2 separate regions of the Homo sapiens genome follow, and region 2 is linked to region 1. Evidence: fine-mapped expression QTL. A gene starts in region 1. The other region holds a variant in brackets. All regions are shown on one strand. Distances are between the middles of the regions.

Evidence for each region.
Region 2: its variant is fine-mapped to the expression of CHID1 in skeletal muscle (GTEx, PIP 0.92).

What each region holds. Positions count from the first base shown.
Region 1 is chr11:908,484-912,725 of GRCh38, reverse strand. It overlaps CHID1 (chitinase domain containing 1), which reads left to right and starts at 1,916. Exons shown (of 13, transcript NM_023947.4): 1 at 1,916-1,951. RefSeq lists a silencer at 1,394-2,233.
Region 2 is chr11:880,463-884,704 of GRCh38, reverse strand. It overlaps CHID1 (chitinase domain containing 1), which reads left to right. Exons shown (of 13, transcript NM_023947.4): 9 at 536-637; 10 at 1,402-1,557. It also overlaps the pseudogene LOC124902604. Among named protein-coding and RNA genes, the nearest start is that of CHID1, 28 kb to the left of the region's middle. The variant G/A (reference allele first, on the strand shown) is at 2,299.

The DNA of each region.
Region 1 (4,242 bases):
ACTACGGGCGCCCGCCACTACGCCCGGCTAATTTTTCGTATTTTTAGTAGAGACGGGGTTTCACCGTGTTAATCAGGATGGTCTCGATCTCCTGACCTTGTGATCCGCCCGCCTCAGCCTCCCAAAGTGCTGGGATTACAAGCGTGAGCCACCGCGCCCAGCCAAGAAGTCAGTTTTCAATGCAGGTACACGGGGCCCATTGGCACAAACTATGCAGATTGGGAAGCGGACCGCTTTGTGCTGGCAACTGACAAGACTCCCCCAGGAACCCGGCCGTTGGGAGCTCTGCAGAGGGGCCTGGCTCTGGGCTTCCTATCCTCCCATCTGCGGGCCCCATCTGCTCTTGAGGTCTGTAGTTCTGGCCCAGAGTGAACCCTAAGTAGATTCTGCAATTCTTTTTTTTGTTTTTTTGAGACCGAGTCTTACTTTATCACCCAGGCTGGAGTGCAGTGTGATCTCTGCTCACTGCAACTTCAGCCTCCCAGGTTCAAGTAATTCTCCTGCCCCAGCCTCCCCAGGAGCTGGGATTACAGGCATGCGCCACCACGCCTAATTTCTGTATTTTTAGTAGAGACAGGGTTCCACCATGTTGGCCAGGCTGGTGTCGAACGCCTGACCTCAAGTGATCTACCCGCCTTGGCCTCCCAAAGTGCTAGGATTAAAGGCGGCGGCTGCCCGATCGATTCTGCAATTCTTTAGCGCCAAAGACCTCTGACCTCAATGAGATCCTAAAATGGCTAAGTGCCTTTCCTAAGAGAAGTTGGATGTTGCCATGGCCTCCTTAGCATTGGGAGGACTGCGCATATGTCCCTGAGGACACCTGCCATAGCTTACTGGGACCCTCTCCAGAGCTCTGCCGACTTGAGGTCTTCACCCCCAAAGGTCAGGCTTCAGGCCACCATCCAGGCCGTTTGCTGAGAGCGAGTGCTAAGCTGAGTAAGAGCCCACAGCTGGTGGGGGACGTGCCTCGCACCGCATGCAGCCCCCAGCCCCTTCTAGGAAAGGCGTGGGCGTCAGCTGGCAGAAAATACCGGGAAGGGAAAGAAGGAAACGTGACTAGAAAGAAAGACAAAGCTTAGTTTAAGGAGAAAGCTCCCAAGCAGCAGAAATGGAGAAGCAGCTGTGCAGGGTGTCTTGGAGCCCACGCGCGCCCCGGGAACGGCTGAGCGGGGCAGGGTGGGGCCCGGCCGTGCGGTTTTCTGTAGGAAACTGCGCTGGGAACGGCTAGGGCTGGGGGTGGGGGTCGGACAGCCTGTGCCGCGTAGAATGCGCGGTGACTCAAAAGTGCTGGCCACGCGCTCGTTCATCCAAGCGCGAGGGGCTGAGTTGGGAACTTGGTTTGCCTCCTGGGGCTCCGGCTCGTGCAATGTGCAAGGCGGGGGTGCGGACCGAGAGAGCGCGCGTTTCGGGCAGTCCCCGCTGGAGACAGCGCAGTGGGCGCCATCGGCCTGGGGATGGAGATGGTCCACTCAGGCGGGGGTCGGGGGGACGCCAGGAGTGGTGACTCCGGGTCCCCGGGGGAGCGTGCCGGGGCGGAGCCCACCGCGCGGTTCTCCCGGCACCGCCGAGCCGGGCAGAGGCCCTGGAGCCCAAGGCCCCGCGCGGCCCCACGCCAAGGGCGCCAGGCCTGCCTAAGAGCCGTGGCGCTGGGAACCCGGCTACCCCTGGGCCGGGAACCTGATAACCAGCTCCAGCGCGAGCACCAGGGGCGCTCAAGGTGAACGCGCCGGGCCCGGGGTCCGCCCCCGGCGCGGCCCCGCCCCGGCCCCGGCCCCGGCCCCGGCCCCGACTTTCGGGCAGCCCTGCCCAGTCCCCTGTCCTGGCCCAGCCCCTCTCCATCCCAGCGTGCCGTGCGCGGCGGCGGCGCGCGGGCGCCTGGGGCGGGACTTCCGGCGCGCTGGAGCGTTTTCCGGCCGTGCGTTTGTGGCCGTCCGGCCTCCCTGACATGCAGGTGAGCCCCGCGGCGGCCGGCCCCTGCTCCTCCTCCTTGCACGGCCTCAGTTTCCCTCCCGCAAAGTGGGCGCGCCGGGCAGCGAGGCTCGGCCCCGGGAGGACGGGCGTGGGGTCGCGGGCGACGCCGGGCGGGTGCGTGAGAGAGAGCAAGTGTGTGAGGGGGCGTGTGAGAGGGTGTGAGGACGAGGGTGAGAGAGGGTTGCTATGAGAGCGAGGGTGAGCGAGAGCGGGGGTGGAGGGCGAGTGTGGACGGGGGCGCGTGTCGGGGGGACCGCGAGTGGGAGGTGGAGCGCGTGCGCTGGGGCGAGCAAGCCTGAGAGCTAGGCGCGCTGGGTGGAAGGGGCCTGAGTGCGCAGACAAGGGATGTGGCCGGCGGGTGAGGAGTGTGTGAGCGCGCGGCTCGTGTGGCAGAGTGGTGGCCATCGGGTCCCCAGGACCCCCAGAGGGAGCAGAGGCAGTAGGGCTCCAGGCGGGCTGCCCTCCCAGTGAGGGGCACGCGGTCCCCGTGAAGGGTGGGCGCATCAGACGCGATCCCACCCACCCTTGGTTCAGCCCCAACCCTTGAAGCTTCCATTGCTGACTGTCCAAACTGGAGGGTGACCCGCCCGCCCGTCCGCCTCGACTTCCTGGGCTCTAGTAATCTCTTAGCCTCCTAGCTACTTGGGACTACAGGTGTGCGCCAGCGCACTCAGCTAAGAATTTTTTTTTTTTTTTGAGACAGAGTCTCACGCTGTCACCCAGGCTGGAGTGCAGTGGCGCGATCTCGGTTCACTGCAACCTCCGCTTCTGGGCTTAAGGGATTTTCCTGCCTCAGTCTCCCGAGTTGCTGGGAGTACAGGCGCACACCACTGCACCCAGCTAATTTTTGTATCTTTTTTAGAGACTGGGTTTCATCACGTTGGCCAGGCTGGTCTTGAACTCCTGATGGGGTGATCTGCCCGGCAGAAAAATATTTTTTGTAGAGACCAGGTCTGGCTGTGTTGCCAAAACCAGTCAAAAACTCCTGGCCTCCCAAAGTGCTAGGATCACAGGCCAGAGCCGCCATGCACCAGTTAGTTCTTCAAAACACAACAGAACAGGAGTTGTCAGTGCGTCCATCGCAGAATAGAGTTAGCTCTGATTGGCTGCTGTCGCTCTACACATGTACACACATGCACAACACATGTGCACACATGACATACACGTGTGCTGGGCTGTGACGTAAAGTGCATTTCTTACTGCTGGTCTCCATGAAAAGCATTGGAAAGCCCCTGCTGTGACTCCCATCATTTCCATCAACACCACCGAGGAGGTCCTGGACCTACGGACTGGGAGCGCAGGAAAGTGGGAGCAGTAGCGCTCCACCTTATCTTGTTACAGAGCGGTTTCTGGGACCCCTTTGGGTGACCAGGGTCGGGGCCTGTGCCTCTTCATAACACAACACATTCCCTTTGTGTGCGGGGCCGTTCTGCCCAAGGGAAGGTCATTGGCATTTGGGGAAGAAACGGTTTGATGCAGGAACACAGTGTGTGTGAACCTGGGAGTCTGTGTTATGTGAAGAGCATGATGGAGAGTGTCCTCACGGGCCTCAGAGCCGAGCGGCCGGTGAGCAGTGGGGAGCGGGAGAGGTACCAAAGCCCAGACAAGGGCCTGGTTGCAGTGTGAGCACCCCTCACACATCACACACACCATCTCCCTGGGGCAGTTGTCTGGAAAGTTCCATGGCAAGTCAAAGAAGCAGCCCAGCATTTGTGAGCAGCCTGTATCCAAGCACTCCATCACAGAGCGGGCAAGTTAAGCGCGAGTGGACAGAGGCAGTACCCTGGCCTTGTGTTCAGTTAGGTTCTCCTAGTGTCCCCTCTGCTGGACACATGCTGGCAGGACTGTCTTCCTCTTCCACCCTTTCCTCTTCCTTCCCTGAAGTGTGAAATCACAGGTTGGGGGGCAGGGAGGTCATAGGCAGAGGGGCCACTAGGTGGGTGGACAGTGGCCCTGTTTCAAATCTGCAGGACGGCAGGTAGGGGCAGAGACCCAGCCCTATAGTGGTTGGTCACTGGGTACCTGAGTGTGCCCTCCAGTTACTCCTGGGCCAGTCCCCTGGAGAACCACCGTTTGGTTTTTCATTCCTTTCCTTCCTCCCTGACCCAGATTTCCACCCAGAAGACAGAGAAGGAGCCAGTGGTCATGGAATGGGCTGGGGTCAAAGACTGGGTGCCTGGGAGCTGAGGCAGCCACCGTTTCAGCCTGGCCAGGCAAGTGATTCTGGGCCGTCTTCCCTGTGCCATGGCCAGAACCCTCCCCACCTTCCCT
Region 2 (4,242 bases), 28 kb after region 1:
AAGCACTTGTCCTTCCCGTCTACCTGCTGAGGTCCAGTGAGGGCTTTGGACAGCCTGGCTGGGCCAGGCCGACCCTGAGTGGGCTTGAGGGCTGCATCCCAGGAGCTGCTTCTGCCTTCAGGGAGGCTTTGCTGCAGACCCCGGGAGGGGACGCTCCTGGGAGCCTGGATCAGTCACCTCCATCTCAGCAACCCCAGCTCTTGGGAGTGGCCCATCCTCTTGGCCACTCTCCACTGACCTTGCCCCTCCATGGGCAGCCCTGGCCCAGGTCTCCCCGCCATTAGGTCTGTCATTCTCAGCTGTACCCTGGTCTCAGAGAGGCCTCTGGGCCCCGATGACCACATCCCCCTGTGTCTCCCAGCCCCCAGCCTCTGTGGCCCCAACCAAGCTGCAGGCTGTCCCCACCCCAGAAGAACACTTTTCCCCTTGGGAAAAGTGACCCAAGTCCCCTACAGGCAGCTTGCTCGAACCGCAGCTGGGGAGGGGCTTCAGGCAGGGCATAGCAGCCTGAGGTGGCTGCACCTGTCTGTTACAGGACCGACCAGCTGGGCATGTTCACGCACAAGGAGTTTGAGCAGCTGGCCCCCGTGCTGGATGGTTTCAGCCTCATGACCTACGACTACTCTACAGCGCATCAGTGAGTGTGGGCTTGGGGGGCTCCTGGGCACAGCAAACTCCACAGTGCAGCAGTGAGTGTGGACCTGGGGGGCTCCTGGGCACAGCTGATGCCCTCTTGCCTGTGGTTCTGTGCACAAGGTCACCTGCTGAGTCTGGACACCCACCTGAGGGAAGCCAGTGGGACTGCACCTGCCCCATGCCCTGTGGTGGTCACGTGGGTGGGGCCCTGCCTCTGGTGGAGCTGGGTCACGGCCAGAGGTACAGGCATAGTCCTGCTGCTGCCCGATGCCGCCCTGTCCTCTTTCGCCTGAGCCACACTGTTGTGGGAGGGCCGTGTGACACAGGCGCAGGCAGGGAGACCTCAGGAAGGATGCCCAGAAGGCCTTGTGTCTGCTGACCTCCTTCCCACTGTGTCATGCGGACTCCTGCCTGTGGCTGTGGGGTGGGGGCCGCACATGAGTGCCTGGCCCTGGGTGTGTTGTCCCTCATGGGCCCGCTCTGCTGACAGCCCTTTCTGATGGGTGATCCTGGCCCTGGACATGCCTCATGGGGCCACTCTGCTGACAGCCCTTTCTGATGGGTGATCCTGGCCCTGGACGTGACGTCCCTCATGGGCCCGCTCTGCTGACAGCCCTTTCTGATGGGTGACTTCTGTTCTTTACAACTCTCTAGAGGTGTCAGCCGCAGCATGGGGAGGATGCACCCCTCAGTGGAGGGCCCCAATGATGGCTCAGGTGCGGGGCCCTCCCTGTTGCTGAAACTCGCTCACCCCTTGCCCTGCAGGCCTGGCCCTAATGCACCCCTGTCCTGGGTTCGAGCCTGCGTCCAGGTCCTGGACCCGAAGTCCAAGTGGCGAAGCAAAATCCTCCTGGGGCTCAACTTCTATGGTATGGACTACGCGACCTCCAAGGATGCCCGTGAGCCTGTTGTCGGGGCCAGGTGAGCCAAGGGCTCTCCCTGCCGTGCTGAAGGTGTCACTGGGCGCGGGTGGGTGTGGGTGTAAGGAGACAGAGTGATGGGGAGGGTCTCGGTCCCCTGGGGCTTCTGCCCCACAGAGTCAGAGATAGGGGCTGGGCCAGGAGCCGGTCCTGCTTGGTGCCCACCCCACCGCAGCCCCCACTGTGGTCACCACCCATAACACGGCCACACATCTGCGTGAGGCTGTCCCCACATCTGCGTGAGGCTGGGACTGAGGCTTCCCCCACCCGTCAGCCTTGCCCCACAGCATACAGGCCGGGCCGGGGCCTCCTGGGTTGAATGCTCCTCCTCCTCTCCTCTGCCCGGGAGTAATTTCCTGCTTTGTGTGTTCTTGGTATGCTCTGCGAGTGTGGTTTCTTGTTGGCATTACTTTACTTTATTTCTGGAGGACATCTTTCCTGGCTGTAGAATTCTGGCTGTCGGTTTTTTCACTGGCACCTTAAGCATGTGGCCGCCCTCTCATTCGGACAGCGTTTCACCGCCACCTCTTTCTCCTGCCTGTGTTGCTGTCCTCCCTGCTCGTAGGAATATCTTGTATTTATGGCTGGTTTTGAACAATTTTATTGACGTGTCTTCATTTTCCTTTTGCACAGTGTTCATGGAGCCTCTTGAGTCTGCATTCGTACTCTTAGCAAACTTGGAAAATTTGAGGCCAAATTCTTCAAATATTTTTTCTGTTTCTTCTCTTCTGTCTTCTCGTTT[G/A]GAGACCACAAACACTAGATCCATTGAATTTGTCCCACAGCTCACGAATACACCTTTTACCTTTTGGAATTCTTTTTTTGTTGAGACGGAGTCTCGCTCTGTCGCCCAGGCTGGAGTGCAGTGGCGCAATCTTGGCTCACTGCAAGCTCTGCCTCCCGGGTTCACGCCATTCTCCTGCCTCAGCCTCCCAAGTAGCTGGGACTACAGGCGTCTGCCACCGCGCCCTGCTAATTTTTGTATCTTTAGTAGAGATGGGATTTCACCGCATTAGCCAGGATGGTCTCGATCTCCTGACCTCATGATCCGCCCACCTTGGCCTCCCAAAGTGCTGGGATTACAGGGGTGAGCCACCACACCGGGCTGGGATTCTTTTTTCTCTGTTTTCTTTTTTTTTTTTTTTTTTGAGACAGGGTCTCACCCTGTCGTCCAGGCTGCAGTGCACTGGTGTGATCATAGCTCACTGCAGCCTCAACCTCCTGGGCTGAAGCCATCCTCCCACCTCAGCCTCGCAAATAGCTGGGACCACAGGTGCATGCCACCATGCCCCGCTAATTTTTGTATTTTTTTTGTAGAGACAGGGTTTTGCCATGTTGTCGAGGCTGGTCTCAAATTCCTAGGCTCAAGCGATCCTCCTGCCTCAGCCTCCCAAAGTGCTGGGATGACAGGTGTGAGCCCCGTGCCTGGCCTGGTCATTTCTCTTGCTGTGCCCAACCTGCCATTAATCCCATCCATCCTGAGCCCGACGTGGTCATTTCTCTCACCACCCAACCTACCGCCCGACGTGGTCCTTTCCCTCACCACCCAACCTACCGCCCGACGTGGTCCTTTCCCTCACCACCCAACCTACCGCCCGACGTGGTCCTTTCCCTCACCACCCAGCCTACCGCCCGACGTGGTCCTTTCCCTCACCACCCAGCCTACCGCCCGACGTCCTTTCCCTCACCACCCAGCCTACCGCCCGACGTGGTCCTTTCCCTCACCACCCAGCCTACCGCCCGACGTGGTCCTTTCCCTCACCACCCAGCCTACCGCCCGACGTGGTCCTTTCCCTCACCACCCAGCCTACCGTTAATCTCATCCAGTGCTTTTGTCACCTCGTGTTGTAATTCAATTTTTTTTATTTTTTATGAGATGGGGGTCTCACTATGTGGTCCAGGCTGGTCTTGAACTCCTGGGCTCAAGCGATCCTCCTGCCTCAGCCTCCCAAAGTGCTGCGATGACACGCGTGAGCCACCAAGCCCAGCCAACATGTTATAATTCTCTAGAGGCTTGCTTGGGGTCCCCTTTACGTCTTCCATGTCTCTACTAAACTTTTGCAGATTGGGATTCAGTTGTAAGAACTGCTGAGTGCCCATGTCTGCTGGTTCTGATATCAGGGTCGGTTTCAGGAGGCTGCTTTTCCTCCTTGTTTGGGGTCCTATTATGCTGCCTTCCTGTGGGCCTGGTACTCTCGGGTTGATGCCTGAGGCATTGCGAATTTTACCATGTTGCGTGCTGGGTGTTTTAGCATTTTTATAAATCATCTTAATCTTTGTTCTGGATGCAGTTGAGTTTCTTAGAAACAGTTTTAGCTGCTCACTTTTCTGGAGAACCTGGTCCTTTTTGTGGAGGCCTCGGCTGTCGTCTTTACGAGTTTTTGCAGGTCCCCCACAGGCCTGCCCTCCGTGAGGGGTGTGTGCGTGTGTCAGCCCAGGCAGGTGAGCCGAGGCCAGGCCATCACCCCTGATTCCTCCTGGTCGGCCGTGGGGAGGGGCAGAGGTAACCTGCTGGATTTGCGGGTCCTGAGGGTGGCAGCAGTGGGTAGAGGAGTATGTTGGGGCAGTGTTCCCTGCCCGGCCTCCAGGGGTGCCCTCCGTGAGCCCCTCCATGGCAGATGGCAGGTGGGCCATGTTGCAAGACCAGGGTCGTGTGTGGTGGTCCCCTTAGGGAGGCTTTCCCCCGACA